2 separate regions of the Homo sapiens genome follow, and region 2 is linked to region 1. The links come from fine-mapping of genetic effects on gene expression. Tissue or cell type: whole blood. Region 1 holds a variant in brackets; the other region holds the start of a gene. All regions are shown on one strand. Distances are between the middles of the regions.

Evidence for each region. PIP is the estimated chance that this variant, and not a neighbour inherited with it, causes the effect.
Region 2: KLHL23 starts here. The variant in region 1 is fine-mapped to the expression of KLHL23 in whole blood (TOPMed, PIP above 0.99).

What each region holds. Positions count from the first base shown.
Region 1 is chr2:169,753,663-169,764,606 of GRCh38, reverse strand. No RefSeq gene overlaps it. Among named protein-coding and RNA genes, the nearest start is that of KLHL23, 25 kb to the right of the region's middle. The variant G/A (reference allele first, on the strand shown) is at 5,074.
Region 2 is chr2:169,728,577-169,738,048 of GRCh38, reverse strand. KLHL23 (kelch like family member 23) reads right to left here and starts at 4,217. Exons shown (of 4, transcript NM_144711.6): 1 at 3,962-4,217; 2 at 1,822-3,036. The coding sequence starts at 3,034. All of the region lies in intron 3 of PHOSPHO2-KLHL23 (PHOSPHO2-KLHL23 readthrough), which reads right to left. RefSeq lists silencers at 3,527-3,706, 3,817-3,886, 3,907-4,346.

The DNA of each region.
Region 1 (10,944 bases):
ATTAAATAATGATTTTTTTAAAAACCTAACCGGCCGGGCACGGTGGCTCACACCTGTAATCCCAGCACTTTGGGAGGCCAAGGCGGGCGGATCACGAGGTCTAGAGATTGAGACCATCTTGGCCAACATGGTGAAACCCCACCTCTACTAAAAATACAAGAAAAATTAGCTGAGCGTGGTGGTGCACGCCTGTAGTCCCAGCTACTCGGAAGGCTGAGGCAGGAGAGTCGTTTGAACCCGGGAGGCGGAGGTTGCAGTGAGCCAAGATCATGCCACTGTACTCCAGCCTAGCTACAGAGCGAGACTTCCTGTCTCAAAAAAATAAATAAATAAACCTAATAAATCATCTTTGGAGGACGCTAACAACTATTTTGCAAACTAGTAAATAAAGGGAAGAATCAAGCATTTAACCTGCCTTTCCTACACAAACTGTAACTCTGAGTAAACAACTAGTAAATGAGGGAATGTCTCTTTTTATAGAAGTATTTAAACAAATAGACCAAGAAGAGACAACAGCGGTCAGGCGCGGTGGCTCATGCCTGTAATCCCAGCACTTTGGGAGGCCGAGGCGGGCAGATCACGAGGTCAGGAGATCAAGACCATCCTGGCTAACACGGTAAAACCCCATCTCTACTAAAAATACAAAAAATTAGCCAGGCGTGGTGGCGAGCGCCTGTAGTCCCAGCTACTCAGGAGGCTGAGGCAGGAGAATGGCGTGAACCCAGGAGGTGGAGCTTGCAGTGAGCTGAGATCGTGCCACTGCACTCCAGCCTGGGCGACGGAGCGAGACTCTATCTCAAAAAAAAAAAAAAAAAGGAAGAGACAATAGCATTGGAAATCACCATTTTGCAACCCTTAATGAATTAAGGATCTAGGATTGAGCATCTACAGCTGCTAACATCACAGATAACCAGACGTTAGGTTTTTTTTTTTTTTTTTTTTGAGATAGAGTATCACTCTGTTGTCCAGGCTGGAGTGCAGCGGCACCATCTCGACTCACTGCAACCTCTACCTCCCAGGTTCAAGCGATTCTTGTGCCTCAGCCTACTGAGTAGCTGGGATTACAGGTGCCCGCCACCATGCCTGGCTAATTTTTTTGTATTTTTAGTAGAGATGGGGTTTCACCATGTTGGCCAGGATGGTCTCGAATTCCTGACCTCAAGTGATCCCAGCCTCGCAAAGTGCTGGGATTACAGGCGTGAGCCACCACACCTGGCCCAAATGTTAGGTATCTTTTGTCAAACACATCATCACCTATGAAGTAGTCTTGACAAAAACAAAATCAAACCTGAATCTGATTAGGCCTCTAGATCTAAGTATCAACATATAGGACATACAGAGAACAGAGGAATGTGCTAATCTACACAACATGAATCAGTAAAATACCAACATTGAAAAAGTAGGATATATGATCAAGGTTCTTCAACAAATACACTGCCAGGAGTTGAAATAAAGAAGAGATGGACAAGGAATTTATAAAATAAGAGAGCTAAAAGACAAAGCAAAGCTAAATACAGTGTTTAGAGATTTACAGTTGGGTGATGTAGTGAGTTGAATGCAAATATGACCACGTCCTACTACCTGGAACCTATGAATGTTACCTTAATTGGAAAAAGGATCTTTGTAGATGTAATTAAGGATCTTAAGAAAATCATCCTAGAGGCCAGGTGTGGTGGCTCACGCCTGTAATCCCAACACTTTGGGAGGCCAAGGCGGGTGGATCACGAGGTCAGGAGATCGAGACCATCCTGGCCAACATGGTGAAACCCCATCTGTACAAAAAAAATACAAAAATTACCCGGGTGTGATGGCACGTGCCTGTAATCCTAGCTACTCTGGAGGCTGAGGCACGAGAATCACTTGAACCCAGGAGGCGGAAGTTGCATTGAGGTGAGATCTTGCCACTGCACTCCAGCCTGGCAACAGAGCGAGACTCCACCTCAAAAAAGAAAAGAAAAGAAAAGAAAGTCATCCTAGATTATCCTGGTGGCCCTAAATCCAACAACAAGTGTCCTTATAAGAGTTAGGCAGAGGGAGATTTGACACAGATGGAAGAGGAGGAGACAATGTGACCAGGGAGCAGAGATTGGAGTGATGTGGCCACAAGTCAAGGAATGCCAGCAACCACAGGAGGCTGGAAAAGAATGGATTCTTCCCTAGGTCCCCCAGGGGTGCAGCCCTGCTGGCACCTCAAATTCAGACCTCTGGGCTCCAGAACTTTGAAAGAACACATTTCTGTTGCCATCTAGTTTAATTTTTTACAGCAGCCACAGGATGCTCATAATACAGGTGGATAATATCCAAGAGAAAGAAAATAATCCCCATAGTGAAGACAGAGGTTATCGATAAGGGTTTAGGAGATACATGTGGAGGGTGTCTGGGGTAGTTGGCAAGGTATTCTCTCCTGACATGGATGCCAGTTGCAAGGTAGTTGCCCTTTAATAACTCAAGCTGTACATTTGTCTCATGTGGATTTCTGTATTCGTATCATATTTAACAGTAAATAAAGTTTTCAAAAAATCATACAACTAGTAAAGCTCTAATCTCAAATGTCTGCCCGCGCACAAGGAGGGCCTGTGTTCTCTCGACAGGGAAGAAGGTACGACTCATTTCCTTGATGGTCAAGGTGTGAGGAGGGAAAAGCTATAAAGGGTTAGAGAAGGGCTGCAGAAACACACCTTCGGGAAACCACAAGTACCACTTTTATGTATTTATCTGTCCAGGAAAGAACTAGAAACAAAAGTTTGTCTGTGAACTTTCAAATGAAAGATGTATTTCACAAGTCTCTGCTGAAAGTGTTCACAGATTATACATGCTCAGCCTGACTTTTAAATGCCACTGAACAAAGGTTGGGGAGTGGGTAATAATTAACTACAGTCTATTAAGGCTGATGGATACAGTGCTGGTACTTCAGATTTCCCAACGAGAACCTCTGTAGGTACTTGTAGGTATACAATCTTGTGGTCTGTTTTGAATTTCAAAGGTAAAAGTTGAAATGTTGGCAATCTTGTGTATCCAACGTGGCACAATTTGCAGTGACTCTTCCTAAACCAGCTCAGAACACCCTTAGGAGGCGGCCAGTTGGGATCTGCAATATTCACTGGAGGTTTGAGCAGGATGCTCAACACCCGTCCAGTGAGGCCCCCACAAAAATATTATCTTTTAACTCAGAGGGCCCCAGTACGAGTTTAACAGTCTATGACTCACAACTTCAAAATAACATCGAAATTCAATTCAGAGTTAAAGACTGTATGACGATGCCCCGGATTTTAAGAAGACAGTTCTGTTGGCCATATTTTTATGTTCATTGCTATATAGTCCATAAAATTTGTGTCACAACTTCTTCTTTTCTTGAATTTTTATAATTTATATACCCCAATTTTACTAAAGACTACTATATTGTTTTTGTTTTTCAACCTTTATTTTAGGTTCAGGGGTACATGTGCAGGTTTGATATACAGGTTAATTTGTGTCATGGGGGTGTGTTGAACAGATTATTTCATTACCCAGGCATTAAGCCTAGTACCCAACAGTGTTTTTTGTTTGTTTTAAGCAGAGTCTCGCTCTGTTGCACAGGCTGGAGTGCAGTGGCATGATCTCAGCCCACTGCAGCCTCTGCCTCCTGGGTTTAAGCAATTCTCATGTCTCAGCCTCCAGAGTAGCTGGAATTACAAGCATGCACACCCATGCCTGGCTAATTTTTATACTTTTAGTAGAGACGGGGTTTTGCCATTTTGGCCAGGCTGGTCTTGAACTCCTCACCTCAAGTGATCCACCCGCCTTGGCCTCTCAAAATGCTGGGGTCACAGGTGTGAGCCACTGCACCTGGCCCCAATAGTTATTTTTTCTGCTCCTCTCCCTCCTCCAACCCTCCACCCTAAAGTGTTTGTTGCTCCCTTGTGTTCATGGATTCTCAGAATTTAGCTTCCATTTATAAGTGAAAACATGCAGTATTTGGTTTTCTCTTCCTGCATTAGTTTGCTAAGAATAATAGCCTTCAGCTCCATCCATGTTCCCACAAGACATGATCTCACTCCTTTTTAAGGTTGCATAGTATCCCATGATGTATGTGTACCACATTCTCTTTTTGCAATCCGTCATTGACAGACATTTAGGTTGATCCCATGTCTTTACTATTGTGAATAGTGCTGCAATGAACATTTGCAGGCATGTGTCTTTATGGTAAAATGATTTATATTCCTTTGGGTATATGTATACCCAGTAATGGGACTGCTGGGTCAAATGATAGTTGTTTTTAGCTCTTAGAGGAGTCACCACACTACTTTCCACAATGGCTGAACCTAATTTACACTCCCACTAACAGTGTATAAATGTTCTCCTTTCTCCACAACCTCACCAGCATCTGTTATTTTTTTCGTTTTTTAGTAATAGCTATTCTAACTGGTGTGAGATATTACCTCACTGTGGTTTTGATTTGCATTTCTCTAATGATCAGTGATACCGACCTTTTTTTCATAGGCTTTTTGGCCACATACATGTCTTCTTTTGTAAAAGGACTAGTATATCTTGGCCGGGTGTGGTGGCTCACACCTGTATTCCCAGCACTTTGGGGGGCCAAGGCGGGGGAGATCACCTGAGGTCGGGCGTTCGAGACCAGCCTGACCAACATGTAGAAACCCCATCTCTACTAAAAATACAAAATTAGCCAGGCGTGGTGGCACATGCCTGTAATCCCAGCTACTCAGGAGGCTGAGGCGGGAGAATCGCTTGAACCCAGGAGGCAGAGGTTGCAGTGAGCCAAGATCGCGCCACTGCACTCCAGTCTGGGCAACAAGAGCAAAATCCCGTCTCAGAAAAAAAAAAAAAAAAAAAAAAAGGCCAGACACGGTGGCTCACGCTTGTAAACCCAGCACTTTGGGAGGCTAAGGCGGGCAGATCACGAGGTCAGGAGATCGAGGCCATCCTGGCTAACACGGTGAAACCCTGTCTCTACTAAAAATACAAAAAATGAGCCGGGCGTGGTGGCGGGCTCCTGTAGTCCCAGCTACTCAGGAGGCTGAGGCAGGAGAATGGTGTGAACCCGGGAGGTGGAGCTTGCAGTGAGTAGAGATC[G/A]CACCACTGCACTCCAGCCTGGGCAACAGAGCGAGACTCCGTCTCAAGAGAAAATAAATAAATAAATAAGAAAAACGACTAGTATATAATGTTAGGTGATGCTTTATTTATTACCTTCAATAAAAATGAGAATTCCTCTCATTTAATTTCTTGACAATAGAATTAATTTCATATAGAGTCTTTCAAATGTGAAACATTGGTAAGTTGTGTTATTTACTACTGTGATAGTTAATGAAGCTTTTTTTTTCTTTTTTTTTTTTTTTGAGAGAGAGGGTCTCACTCTGTCACCCAGGCTGGAGTGTGGTGGCATGATCATAGCTCACTGCAGCCCCAAACTCCTAGGCTCAAGTGACCCTCCCACCCCAACCTCTTGAGTAGCTAGGACTACAGGCATGTGTCACCACGCCCAGGTAATTTTTTGGATTTTTTTGTAGAGATAGAGTTGCACAGGCTGGTCTTAAATTCCTGGCCTCAAGTAATTCTCTAGCCTGGGCCTCCCAAAGTGCTGGGATTATAGGTGTGATCACCACATCTGGCCTAATGAAGCCTTAATATCAGTATTGATATTTCATAACTTTATAAATATTATTTTCTTACACTGCTCTATTTCTTAGCTGTTAAATAATAATTGCTATAGCTAAAACACCTTATGAAATACTTGATATTATGAAATACTTTGGTTGTCTTATATAGATTGACATTTAATAATAATTGGGCTAGGCACAGTGGCTCATGCCTGTAATTCCAGCACTTTGGGAGGCCAAGGCAGACAGATCACTTGAGGTCAGGAGTTCGAGACCAGCCTGGCCAACATGGTGAAATCCCATCTCTACTAAAAATACAAAAATTAGCTGGAGGTGGTGGGGTACCTGTAATCCCAGCTACTTGGGAGGCTGAGGAATGAGAATCACTTGAACCCAGAAGGCGGAGGTTGCAGTGAGCTGAGATCCGGCCACTGCATTCCAGACTGGGCAACAGGCAAGACTTTGTCTCAAAATAATAATTGGCAAATAAATTATGTGAAAACAACTTTTTATATTAGCCTCAAGAAAGATGAACTCTTTATCACCTTGAGTCTTTCTCTCTCCTAGGAGCAAAAACCTTTTTTTTTTTTTTTTTTTTTGGTAGAGGACCACCCCCCTAGAACCCTTCTTCTAATATCTTAGAGGTTAGAACTGCTTCACATACATTCCTCCACCAAACACTGGCAAGGAGGATGGACTATCCATGATTGGCTTAGGGTAATTAAGATTCAAGTTACATGGCCTCCTAATATGCAAAAAGACCTGGGGCTCTTGATAATCTACATCTTTGACACAATTAGTCACTTCTCTTGCATTATATTTTGCTTCCAGCCCTTGGCAGAATGGTCTAATAGTCAATGACCCTGTCACCAACTTCTTTTTTTTTTTCCTAAACCTACTTTCTATCTTCCACTCCTCAGGAGTTCCTGACACCCATCATTGTTTTTTGTTTTTTTCTTTTTCTTTCTGTCAGAAACTCCTCTCAAATCAAATGGAATTGCGAAAGTCAGGATAAGACAATATATCACTATCTGTGGTATGCAGAATAATGGTCCCCTAAAGATGTCTACATCTTGATCTTTGGAATCTGTGTATCAGGTTACATGGAAAGGAGAATTAAGGCTCCTAACACTGATATGGTGAATCCTGTACCACGCTTCTATCCTGCAGAATTATAAAATAAATTTGTATTACTTTAAGCTACTAAGTTTGTGGTAATTTCTTACAGAAGTGATAGAAAACACAATACACTTTCCAAAAATATTTACATTTTAACAAGGGACAAAGCCCTTCCTTGACTTAGCATATTTTTCGTTGCAAGAGATAGAAACTTGATTCAAAACAAAAAAGGATCTATTGGGTCACATCACCATCCAACTGTGGAAAAGACAGGAATGGAACTGTGTCAGGAAGGCCTAGAACCAGACGTTAACATCATCCCCCATCCCCAGTCACTGGGCATCTGTATCTGTTCTCTTCATTCACGCCAGCTTAGTCCCAACAGCAGGGAACTTGGCCAACCACAGCTCTAGGTCTGCCCCCATGACTCAAACACCTCCCATTAGGCCCCATCTCCAATCCTGGGGATCAAATTTCAACATGAGGTTTGGAGGGGAAGAATTTCCAAACCATAGCATTCCACCCCTGGCCCCCAAAACTGATGTCCTTCCCACATGTAAAGTACAATCATCCATCTCAACGGTCCCAAATGTCTTAAGTTGTTCCAGTACCAACTCAAATGTCCAAAGTCCAAAATCTCATCTGAGATTCAAGAACAGTTCCTTTCAGCTATGAGCATGTAAAATAAAAAACAAGTTATTTCATTCCAAGATACAATGGTTATACAGGCATTCCCATGTCAAACATTCCCATGTCAAATGGGAGAAATCAGTGAAAAGAAAAGGGTAATAGGCCCCATGCGTGTCCAAAACCCAGCAGGGCAGGCATTAAATCTTAAAACTCCAAAATAATCTCCTCTATGTCCCACAACCTGGGCACACTGGTGGGTCCTGAGGCCTTGAGCAGACCCATCCCTGTGGCTTTTCTGGGTGCAGCCCATGTGGCTGCTCTCATAAGGTGGAGTCAAATGCCAGAGGCTTTTCCAGGCTGAAGGTACACACTGCTGGTGGCTCTATCATTCTGGGGGCTGGAAGGCAGTGGCCCTCCTGCAAATCCACCAGGCATTACTCTCGCAGAGGCTGGCTGTGAAGGGTCTGACTCTGCCGCAGGCTTTTGCTTGGGCACCCAGGCTTTCCAATAAATCCTCTGAAATCTAAGTGGAAGCCACATCTCCATAGCTCTTGCATTCTGTGGGCCTGCAGAATTAATACCACGTGGATATCACCAAGGCTTCCACCTCGTGCCCTCTGGAGCAGCAGCACCAATCTTATCTGGGGTTCCTGGGGTCATTTGAGCCACAGCTGCTACAGCCTGGGAACAGCATCCTGAAGCAGTGAGGAGCAGTGGTGCCCTGGTCCTGTTCCCCAAAACCAATCTGTCCTCCTAATACCCCTAGGCCTGTGATGGGAGGGGTGGCTGCCCAGCGGAAATTTCGATTTGTGAAATGCCTTTGTGGCCTTTTCCCCACTGTCTTGACTATTAGTACCTAGATCCCTTTTTGTCACCCTAAACTCTTTAGCAACCTGTGGCTCCAGCTTGACCCTTGGATTCCTCTCCTGAATATGCTCTTTCCTTCTCTATTACATGACCAGGCTGAGAATTTTCCAATATTTTACACTCTGCTTTTAATGATAAATTCTGCCTTTAAGTCATTCCTTTGCTGCTGCAATTCAACATATGCTGTTAAAAGTAATCATACACTTCTCGATTGCTTTGCTGCTTAGAAATTTCTTCTGTCAATTACACTAGGTCATTACTCTTACGTTTGGTCTTCCACAAAGCCCTAGGGCATGGACACAATGCAGCCAAGTTCTTTGCTGTGCTGTAACATGGGTGATCTCTGCTTCAGTTCCCAGTAAGTTCCTCATTTCCACCTGAGACCTTGTCAAGATGGCCTTTACTGTCTATATTTTTTTTTAATTTTTTTTAATTTTTTAAAAGTCCCCATTTGACATACTGTCTACATTTCTATCAGCATTTTGGTCATAACCAATTAATCAATCTGTAAGAAGTTCCAACCTCTTAGAATTTCCAATCTCTAAATTCCTCATCTTTTTGTCTTCTTGTAACCAGGGGCCTCGGTGTTAAAAATCACCCACTTTCTTTTTCTTCCTTCCCTCTCTAGACACTCCCTTTCAGCACAATGTATGCTTATCTAATTAGGCTCTTGCTTGAGAAATCCCAGAGGCTAACCTTGAAACAAATCAGGGACAGAGCCCTCATTGAGGAATTCTCCCATTTGGAGGGAGTAACCAACAATTAGTCCACCATTATCAGGCCAAAGTCAAGATAATGCCAACCAGACGTCTGGACAGGCATTACCCAAGATAACCACTGGAACAAGACACACAGACCCTGTACCCTGCACCTCCACATGTCTCCAAGTTTCCCTTTAAAAATCCTATGGTAAATTTTAAAATGTAAGATGGTACTTTCATTGCAGCACTATTCACAATAGCAAAGACATGGAATCAACCTAAATGCCCATCAGTGATAGACTGGATACAGAAAATGTGGTACATATACGCCATGCAATACTATGCAGCCATAAAAAATGAGATCATGTCCTTTGCAGGGACATGGATGAACCTGGAAGCCATTATCCTCAGCAAACTAATGCAGGAACAAAAAAAGCAAACACCACATGTTCTCAATTTAAGTGGGAGCTGAATGATAAGAACACATGGACACATGGTGGGGGACAACACACTAGGGCCTGTGGGGATGGGGGTTGAGGGGACGGAGAGCATCAGGAAGAACAGCTAATGGGCGCTGGGCTTAATACCTAGGCGATGGAATGATCTGTGCAGCAAACTACCATGGCACACGTTTACCTGTGTAACAAATCTGCACATCCGCACATCTACCCGGGAACTTAAAATAAAAGTTGAAGAAAAAAATAAAGATGGTACTTTCGAATGCTTGTTCACTATGTTCTCAAGTTTGCTGGCTCTCCAATTAAACCTGCTTTTCCTCCCACCAATCCTAGCCTCTAATGTCTGGTGTTTGAGCAGCAGCAGCTGAACCTAAGTCTGGTTACATTCTGAGCCCTCCAAACTCTTCCAACCTCAGCCCATTACCCAGTTCCAAAGCTGCTTTCTCATGTTTAGGTATTGTTAAAGCTATACCCCACTCCTCAGTACCAATTTTCTGTCTTATTCCATTTTGTATTGTTATAAAAGAATACCAGAGACTGATAATTTATTAAGAAAAAAAGGTTTATTTAGGCCGGGTGGGGTGGCTCATGACAGCACGTTAGGAGGCCAAGGCTGATGGATCACGAGGTAAAGAGATTGAGACTATCCTAGCCAACATGGTGAAACCCCGTTTCTACTAAAAATACAAAAATTAGCTGGGCGTGGTGGTGCACATCTGTTAGTCCCAGCTACTCTGGAGGCTGAGGCAGGAGAATCCCTTGAATCGGGGAGGCGGAGGTTGCAGTGAGCCGAGATTGCACCACTGCACTCCAGCCTGGTGACAGAGCGAGACTCCGTCTCAAAAAAAAAAAAAAGAAGAAAGAAAAAAAGGTTTATATAGCTCAAGATTCTGATGGTTGCAAAGTCCAAGATTGGGCATCTGCATCTGATGAGGGCCTCACACCTGCTTCCACTCATGGTGGAAAGCAAAGGGGAGCTTGTGTGTGCAGAGATCACATGGCAAGAAAAGGAAGAGAAAGGAAGGGAGGTGCCAGGCTCTTTTTAACAACCAGCTCTCATTGGAACAGAGAACTCACCCACAAGGGAGGGGGTTAATCTATCCATGAGGGATCTGCCCCCATGACCCAAACACCTCTCATTAGGTCTCACCTCCAACACTGGGGAGCAAATTTCAACATGAGACTTGGAGAGGTCAAACATCCAAACCATAGCATAGTCCAAGTGTAAGTGCCTCATAAAAAAAGAGTTAGGGCATCAGCACAGTCACAGCCTTTGGAAGAACTGCTCTAAGGCAGACAGAAGCCCCAAGCTGTGTCTGCTGTGGCCTAAGAAATGTAAGCCGTATTTATAGTTTCAGACATTTTCAGACTAATAAAACAAGTGTTTTTTGTTGCTTTGCATACGTGAAGGGAGGGAGGATGGAGGGCTGACTGTCTGCTACTGGCTGATCCAGCACCTAAACTGATCATATAAACGGTGATCTCCTCTGCAGTCTGTATTAGTCAGCTTGGGCTACCATAATGGGTGGCAAACAAGCAATTTTTATTCTCACAGTTCTGGAGGCTGGAAGT
Region 2 (9,472 bases), 26 kb after region 1:
AAGGTTAACGCAAGCATGCATATGGCTTTTGTTTCACAGTAGATACACCATCGCAGCATATCTTTTTTCAACAAGCACTGTTCTAAATATAAATTTTTAAAATTTCAGTAAAGTAATAAGCTTTCATTCTCAAAGAAATATACTCTGAACCCACCCTTGTAATCCCAGCACTTTGGGAGGCCAAGGTGGGGGGATCACTTGAGGTCAGGAGTTCAAGACCAGCCTGGCCAACATGGTGAAACCCCGTCTCTACTAAAAATACAAAAATTACCTAGGTGTGGTGGCACATGCCTGTAATCCCAGCTACTCAGGAGGCTGAGGCAGGAGAACTGCTTGAACCCGGGAGGCAGAGGTTGCAGTGAGCCAAGATCACGCCACTGCATTCCAGCCTGGGAGACAGAGTGAGACTCCATCTCAAAAAAAAAAAAAGAAAAAGAAAAAGAAATATACTCTGAACCACAAAACCATTGAAACTGTTATATCATCCTTAAAAAACAGAATCAGAAATGTATGCTAGTTTACAATAGCTCCTTAAATATATGGACTTTTCTTATTTCTTTTGCAGAAGAGGGGTCAGGACATTCAGAGCCCTCCTGGAATCGGCAAGTAGTGGTGAGACTCAGGCAAAGACAAAAACCAGGGGAGCAACAGCACCGGGCTTTCTGCTACCTTCTCCCACCCTGGTGTGACAGTGGTCACAACTTCACATGAAATCAATTTCTGCTCTATAAGAGCTGACATGTCCTTCAATACCGACATTCAGGACAATCATGCGTAACATTTATAGCATGCTTACTCTGTGTCAGACACTGTTCTAGGCACTTCACAAGCATAGATTAATTTAATCCTCTCAATGATCCGAGACTAGGTAATATTGTCATCCCCATTATACAGATGACAAAACGGGGGCACAGGGTGATTAAACAATTTGCCAGAGCTCATCAGCAAGTAAGAGGAAAGCAGGGATCTGGATGCAGGCAGTTTAGCTTCAGAGGCAGCGTGCCTGATCCCAAGACTGTTCTGCCTCTCAGCTTCCTGCCTGTCATCCAAGGATCATACCAGGTCAGATTTCCAGACCAGGTCAAATTCCCACACTCTCACTAGCATTAAAAAAGAAACAGAAAAGCCTGGGAAGAAACATTTGGGACAAAATGATACAAATTTGGTAACGACCTACCAGTTGTTTTTGTACAACTCCTCAGCACCAATGAATAAATACAATGAAATAAGATTCCCGTTTAACTTTTTTTCCAGTGGGAGAGAAGGAGAGCAAGGCAAACAAATCGCCAAACACAGCAGAAAATAGTGTTTATCAGACAGATACCGAGACCCAGGGGTGTGCCGGGTTCTGTGGGCCACATGAGGGAGAGTATGGTGTCTGCCCCTCTCAGAGAGGACTGAATTGCAAAAGCAGACGTTGTCTCTAGTTCCTGGAAGAATGTACTTTGTTACATCCTGTAGGGACCAAACCTTCCAAGGTTTTAATGAAGGACCTCTTGAGAGCTGATCAGCGTATTTTGAGAGGAAAAAGTTGAATAGCAGAATTTTAAAGGGTTCAATTTTAAGAACATGAAAAAATGAAAAACTGTCCAGATTTGTCTCTTCATCTAGCCCTTGACTTGAATATAAATTCTCATAACTCTCAGACAAGTTGGGAACTATGCTATACTGTTTTTATCTGGAACATTCTGTGTAGCATTATTTGTATAATTAACTATAGTTCCTAGATAGCATCCCAAAGTGATAAATTCAAGAGAAGTGAGACTGCTGGCCTAGCTCCAGACATCTAAAAAATACAAAATAAACATAATCTCCACTTACCTTTAATCATGTTTGCAATAGGAATCCATTTCTCTTTTAAAGGATCATAGAACTCAGCCTCTTCTGCTGGAGCCCCTTTTCTGTAACCACCTAAAGCATAGACACAGCCACCCAAGGTGACTGCACAGTGGTAATACCTGGCATTGAGCATTGGCAAACCTTCTGTCCATTCATCACTTTCACTGTTATAGATCCACACTGTGTCAAGAGCTTCTATGTTATCCGTCCTGTAGCCCCCAGTTACATAAATGTTGGGTCCTAAACATGTAACACCATAGCTCTCCCTGGTATAATCTGGTATTTCTGCTCCCTGAATCCAAACATTTGTCAAAGGATCCCATATGTGAACCTCTGATAAAGGATGCCAGTAATAGCCTCCAATTATATACATTGTGGCTGTGGACCTCTGGGAAATCTCTTTATGCATGGGATTCAAGGCATTGTATATTAGGGAGCGGATCTTATTTTCGGTGAGCAGGCAGCTTCTTTGAAGGCCTAAGGCTGTTTTTAAGTACACTGGATCTATATCAATGTTGATATAGCTCAGTAGATTATAGAGGCATTCAATTCGATTTTCTACATCATGAGCAGTCCACTTAATAACTGGCTCTATGATAGCTTCTTCTTTCCAAACACTGAGATTCTTTCTGGACAAGATAAAGAGAAACTTTTCAAGGCTGATTTCCAGAAATTCTTCTTGTTGCCACACTTCCTTAAACTTTGAACATAGAATTCTTCGAGATTCCTTCTCTAGTTCTGGACACACATGAAATTCTGCAAAGGAGTGCATTCCAATACAATTATCAATATCCAAGTGCCTTACCAAAAACCGCTCACAAGCCTTCTTTACTGAAAGGAACTGTAGCAGATCCGCTGCCTCAAGCAGGCTTTGAACATTTCTTTTAGTTATTTCAATTTGGGAAGTGTATGCATAATTTACAAGGCCTTCCAGAATATCATGGTGGATGCCAGAGAGTTTTATTTTATTTTTAAATTTTTCTTTCATGTCAGCTGTGAACATTGCCTTAAAATAATTGCTGCAAGCAGCTAAAACGGCTCGGTGACAATGGAAAATTATGCCTGAAGGACACTGAAGAGTAATATCAGTAAATAATCCATCCAAGTAAAATGTTCTGAATGCATCCAGAAAATCCACTGGATGTGTTGAATCCTTGAAAAGATAAATATAATCTTCTTGTCCTTTTAGAGCCATGGCTGCAATAAATATGAAATAACAAATGTGTTTTCAATGTTGCACATTCTCTCAAATAATCAACGCTAAATAACTTGACTATCATCGGATATACTCCAAAACTGGACTAAGTTCAGCATCTAAATAATAAATGCAAAATGTGGATGGACTGTTTGATCATTTATATGGTGGTCAATTTAAATTCAGGGTAGCTCGGAGCTTGAAATGAGGCTCCTGGATTTTTCAGTAGTCCTTTTGAGAGTACTGATTTGCTATTCCATTCACCGCAATCTACCCTGGCCTGGCGTTCGGAGATGAGATCCCACACTAGGCAAGGCAAGTGTCCGAGGGTCACCCCACTCGAGGCCGGACCTCAGCTGTCTCGGCTCGGCCCCAATTCAACCTTTTCCCCAAGCTCGTCTCCCTTTCAAATCACATCGAAATGCCAAGAAAGGGATGATGGAAATATAAATGGACAAGAAGAGGTCTCGGAAAAGGGAAATCCCGAGCCCTTTCGCTTAAGGAAGGAGAGAAAGGAAGGCAGCTCGGCGCAGCCCTTGCAGCCCTCGCCCCCTCCCCCGCGCCCGCCGCAGGGGTTTCCGCGCGCCCCGCGCCTGGGCCCCGGCCCACGTTCCCGCCCGGAGACCGCCCCGCCCCGGGGCCAGGAGCGGGGCTGGACTCGAGGGCGCCGCGTGCCGCCCGCGGGCCCGGTGCCCGCGTCCCTCTGCCCGGCGCTCCGCGCAGGTGTGGGAAGGACGCCGCAGGCAGCCCCAGCGCAACGCGTTCGGCCCGGCCCGGCGCCCGCGCGGCCATTGTCTGCGCTCCTCTCCCGCGCGGCCTCGCTGCCCGCGCCCGGCCCCGCTGCCCGCGCCCGGCCCCGCTCCCCGCGCCCGGCCCCGCTCGCTCCCAGCAGGCCGGCCTCGGGCTGCGGGTCCACACCGCACCTACCTCCCGCCGGGGCTCGGGACGCGGCGCTGGCCCGCGGGCTAGTAGCGAGCGGGAGCGGGGACGCCTCCGGCCCCTCTGACCATCTTTGGAAGAGGCGCTCGGAAGCCGCCAGCTAGTGCCGCTCCACCCCACAAGCAGCTCCTATTTTGGTGTCCCGGCGGCTCCCCCGCCTCCACCCGAACAGCCCCCCGCACGGTCTGGGCGCGAGGCCACTCGCGGGAACTCCCCCGTCGCCGGGCCGTGCGGCGAGCGGGGCGGGGCGTGCAGGCGTGAGCACGGCTCGGCCCCTCCCCAGCGGCGCCCCCCACAGCAGGTGGGACTGCTTCCCCAGGAGACAGCGCGCGCCGCCGCCTTCCCCTTCCTTGGCTCGCTCTCTGTCCCGCGCGCTCTCTCACACCCGGTCGAGCGTCTTCTCTTAGATAAACTCTGAGTCCTGAATTATTAATAACACCATATATGAGTGTGTGTGTGTGTGTGTGTGTGTGCGCGCGCGCGCGTGTGCATGTGTGTACACTCCCCTCCCTCAGTAGGCTTCGCCAGCCCAGACTCAATCGTGAGGACAGAGAAGGGGGAAAGAGTGGAGAGAATGGGGCACAACTAAAGGTCAGGGATTGGAGGCGCCGTTGAAATGCCAGAAGTAGCCGGCCTTTCCCACAAACGCCATCCCACCCCCAGCAAAGCACTCAGGAGGGCGCCTTGGTGCTGGTGAGCACATCAGGGGTTAAGCTGAAGCTTTGAGAGAAACTTTGGGCAGCCGGGGCCAAGGCGAAGTCCAGGCGAAGTCCAGTCGTGCTAAGATTCAGGTTATTGTATTTAGAGCATAGCAGCTGGAAGGAGCAGCCTTTCTGGTGACGGCCACTCTAGTCACAGATGTCTATGTGGTACACAAAGTTCATTTTCTTGTTCCAACTAAAGCCAGTATCAAATATTTTTGTATATCATTCATTCATTCATTCGCAAGATTTTATTAAGTGCTTCTAGTGCCTGATAGGGATAGACACTAGTAGTGATAAGAGTGTTGACAGATGGTCCCTAGCTCACAGGGACCTTCACCACCACCAGAGGACCATGTGTTTCCCAGAGTATGGTCTCAGAAACGCAATATACATGAATGGCCAGATAGTATGTGACAACAGAACTCTGAACCACATAAGAAGCCCAGGAAGCCAGACCACAACCTTGGTAGCAGCTGAACCAGAACAGTCAGGAAGTAGTCAACGACTGGCAATTTCCCTATTTTTTTTCTTTTTTGAGACAGGGTCTTGCTATGTTGCCCAGCCTGGAATGTAGTCGCACGATCTTAGCTCACTGCAGCCTCGATCTCCTGGTCTCAAGAGATCCTCTGCCTCAACCTCCCAAGTACCTACGACTACAGATGTGCAATTTTTGAAAAATTTTAAATATTTTTTCATGACAGGGTCTCACTATGTTGCCCAGGCTGGTCTCAAACTCCTGGACTCAAGCGATCTTCCTGCCTGGGACTTCCAAAGTGCAACTTCCCTATTTTTACCCCTAGTTCCACCTCTGCACCAACCAGAGAAAGCCAAATATGTTCCGCAAACCCATCACATAAAATACCCCCGCTTCTAGTAGCCCACCTGCAGCTTTCCCATGCCAACAACTTCCAATCAGAGCATACCGGGGGCTTTTCTTCACTTCTATAAAGCTTTCCCACTCGTCTGCCCCACCTTTGAGCCTCTGACAAAGTGATGGTGAGTGGGACTCCCTTCTACAGCAAACTCTGAATAAATAGCATCTGTTGGTTCTCCTGTGGGTGGGTTTTAGTTTAATTCCACAAGTCAGATCATCTTAATTGAATTATGTAAGATGCTGGTTATGCAGCCCCCACAACTACCACACCCCACGCACAGACGTCTGCGGGGTGGAGACCTAGGGATCTGCATTCTAATCAAGGGCAGCAGGTGATTCTTATGGACAAATAAGAGAATGTGTTGGACCCAAAAGGAAGAAGGATGAAAGTTTAACATCCCAACATCTGGTAAACAGTATAGTTAGAAAAGGAAAGCATATGAGATTTAGTTTCGGGCTTAAGGCTCATCTCTGCCACTTATCCAACATATAGCCTCTCACAAATTACTAAACTTCTCTGATCCTTCGTCTTCAGATCTGTAAAACACAGACAACATGGATACTTTCTCAACCTAACCTAAGGTTATTGGAAAGACAAATTAATAATGAAGCACTTAGGACTTGATATATAAATGTTAGCTACTATAATGAAAGAATATTTACACTTAATTCTGCATCACAACCTTAATTTGGAAATTAGCATCTTCTTAACATTTCTTCAGAAATTATGAACTTCATAGTTAATAGTAATTATAGCTTGCCCTTCATAACTGATAGTGATGCTGTTGTCACTGTTGCCATTCAAGGACACAATTGTGACTGATTGAAGGAGACTTCTCTCCATTTTTGTCACTGAAGTGTAGAGATGGCTGTTTTTGCAGCTATAATTACTGTTTGCCAAGTTTGATGTATAAAAAAATATAGGCTCCATCTAACTTGGAGTAAGGGCTTCTGGAATCATAACTACATGTAATAATAAATGATTCATGAATAATAGAATTCACTATATTCTCATTTATGCAGTTATTTCAGATGGCTGCATGAACCAACTAAAACTCTTGCTTTCATTTCGTGATGTTCCCTGGTTGTGAATTACTACTTAAAAGTGTATATCAGTGTATATTACATATTAGACTATTATACTGCTTCACTTTGCTAAGAGAAGAGCAGGTCCTGAAGGGTATTGCCTGGCATAGTTCCTCTTTACCATGTGCTTATCAAAGAGACCATTGCAAATGCTGATAGATTTGATGCATTCAGAAACATATAATTAGCATTCATAAATCAAATAAATTAATGATACCGTTCAAGAAAACAGATGTGCCATCTGTGGTTCCAAGTCTTAAAGAAATAAAGTGCTGCCATGGAAATGAGACATAAATGATTTGGCAGATACTAAGCTTGGCATGGAGTTAGATGACTTATTGACATCACACTTCAGCTTTCAAAGGACTCCGAGTTCTAAAAATAATGATTTTATTTATAATTTTTACCTTATTAGTACATCTTTCCACTAAGTACAGCCATGCCATTAAATGTTTGATATGCTGTGATATCATTAACAATGTGTGTAGATGATGGGCATAGATAGAACATTTTGTATACTTCATTTACATACTGGATTAAACAAGTTGCTGCCAAGTTAAAAAAAAAAAAAAAAGGCCAGGCCCATTGGCTCACGCCTGTAATCCCAGCACTTTGGGAGACCGAGGCAGGCAGATCATGAGGTCAGGAGTTTAAGACCATCCTGACCAACATGGTGAAACCCCATCTCTACTAAAAATACAAAAATTAGCCAGGTGTGGTGGTATACGCCTATAATCCCAGCCACTCAGGAGGCTGAGGCAGGAGAATCTCTTGAACCTGGGAGGCGGAGGTTACAGTGAGCCAAGATTGCGCCATAGCACTCCAGCCTGGGCGACAGAGTGAGACTCCGTCTCAAAATAAAAAACAATAGTAGGTAAAATGTATAAGGCTACCACATACAGCTTTGCAAATTGTGCACTGCACAATTCCAGCTCATGCAACTTAAGTAGAGTACAGTGTAAACACTGCTCTCAGGAGTTGTATAGTACACAACCAACGCAGGTATCTGTGGCTGCCCTGCAGCCGATGTGTCTTGGTAAAACCTTTTTTGGTATGTTTCCTGTAAAATAAGAAAGTGAACATTCTAATAACTAGGTAAAAATGCTTTTGCAAGTCACAGGTTTCCAATTCCTGGTTTCCAGCAAAAGTGAAAGAGGATTTTTGGCAAATAATTTGGAGGGAATGACAAAATGAATGGCATTACTATAAAAAAGGTTTTTTGTTTGTTTTTTTTTTTTTGAGACGGAGTCTTACTCTGTCACCCAGGCTGGAGTGCAATGGTGTAATCTTGGCTCACTGCAACTGCTGCCTCCCAGGTTCAAGAGATTCTCCTCCCTCAGCCTCCTGATTAGCTGGACTATAGGTGCATGCTACCACGCCCAGTTCATTTTTGTATTTTTAGTAGAGATGGGGTTTTGCCATGTTGGCTAGGCTGGTCTTGAACTCCTGACCTCAGGTGATCCACCTGTCTCAGCCTCCCGAAGTGCTGGGATTACAGGCATGAGCCATCGCGCCCGGCCACTATGATAAAATTTATCTCATTCTTACCTATTTGTCTCTGTGAACATGTTTTCTCAGCGATTATGTCTATAGAAATGTTAAGCAGGAACATTATTGAACCTAAATACTGTCTCATTCCAGCAGTAAGCACTACTTGACTTCATACTCTAAATGAAAGTAGCCCTATTCATCAGATTGAAATAATTTTTAATAATTTTTTACTTTTGATTTAAACATATTTATGTTTAATTAATTATAATAATAATTATAATATTAATTAGACCAGGATTTGTAAAATAACCAAAGATATAAAACCATCAAGGACATACAAATTGTAATTTATACACATTTTTGTCACAGAGAAGGTTAAGAGATTAATAAAAGATATTCAGTATAAAACCATACAGAAAAGTCTTTCTTTTTTTTGGCCTGGCCAAAAATGCTTTCTTTGAATGGTTCCAATATGTATGAATTTTAGTTACCATGGTTTAGTTAAATAACACCTGTCCCCTGAGAACAAGGTTTCAAATTTCAGTTACTGAAGTAAATTAACTCTGAGTAACTGCATAAAATACAAATTTGCTGCTAGCTCCTCAGGTCCATGAATTACTACATTAACAAATGCGCATCCTGATCAGTGACCAATCATGTATCTTCTTTCAAAGTCTGTCAGTGATTGATCTCTGTGCATCTGTCAGTTCACATACAGACAGTAAGGCTTGCAGTTGCATTGTCTCCTTGTCTGCTAGTAAAAAACCCATGTGACATTTTACAAAAATGGGTGATTGAGAAAGGGTATTGACCAACAAGGATGAAAGTATGGCATGGAAATAAAAAGTGACAATACCGCAAATAAAATGTGAAATGGCTGGGCATGGTGGCTTACGCCTGTAATTCCAGCACTTTGGGAGGCCAAGGTAGGCGGATCACCTGAGGTCAGGAGTTCGAGACCAGCCTGGCCAACATGGTGAAACCCTGTGTCTACTAAAAATACAAAAACTAGCCAGGCGTAGTGGTGGGTGCCTGTAATCCCAGCTACTCAGAGACTGAGGCAGGAGAATCACTTGAACCTGGGAGGCGGAGGTTGCAGTGAGCCAAGATTGTGCCATTGCACTTCGGCCTGGGTGACAAGAGCAAAACTCCGTCTAAAAAAATCAACAAAAAAAAAGTGAAATGAACACAATGAGGTTATAGAGGAAATAGCTGACCATGGGAATGTTTACACTACCACCATTGGAGAGAATTCAGATATGCAGCCAGGGAACTTAGTGCAGGTGAACTCATGACATAAGTGAGTCACCTTATGTCTCAAAGGAAGTGATCCTGGCAAAAAAC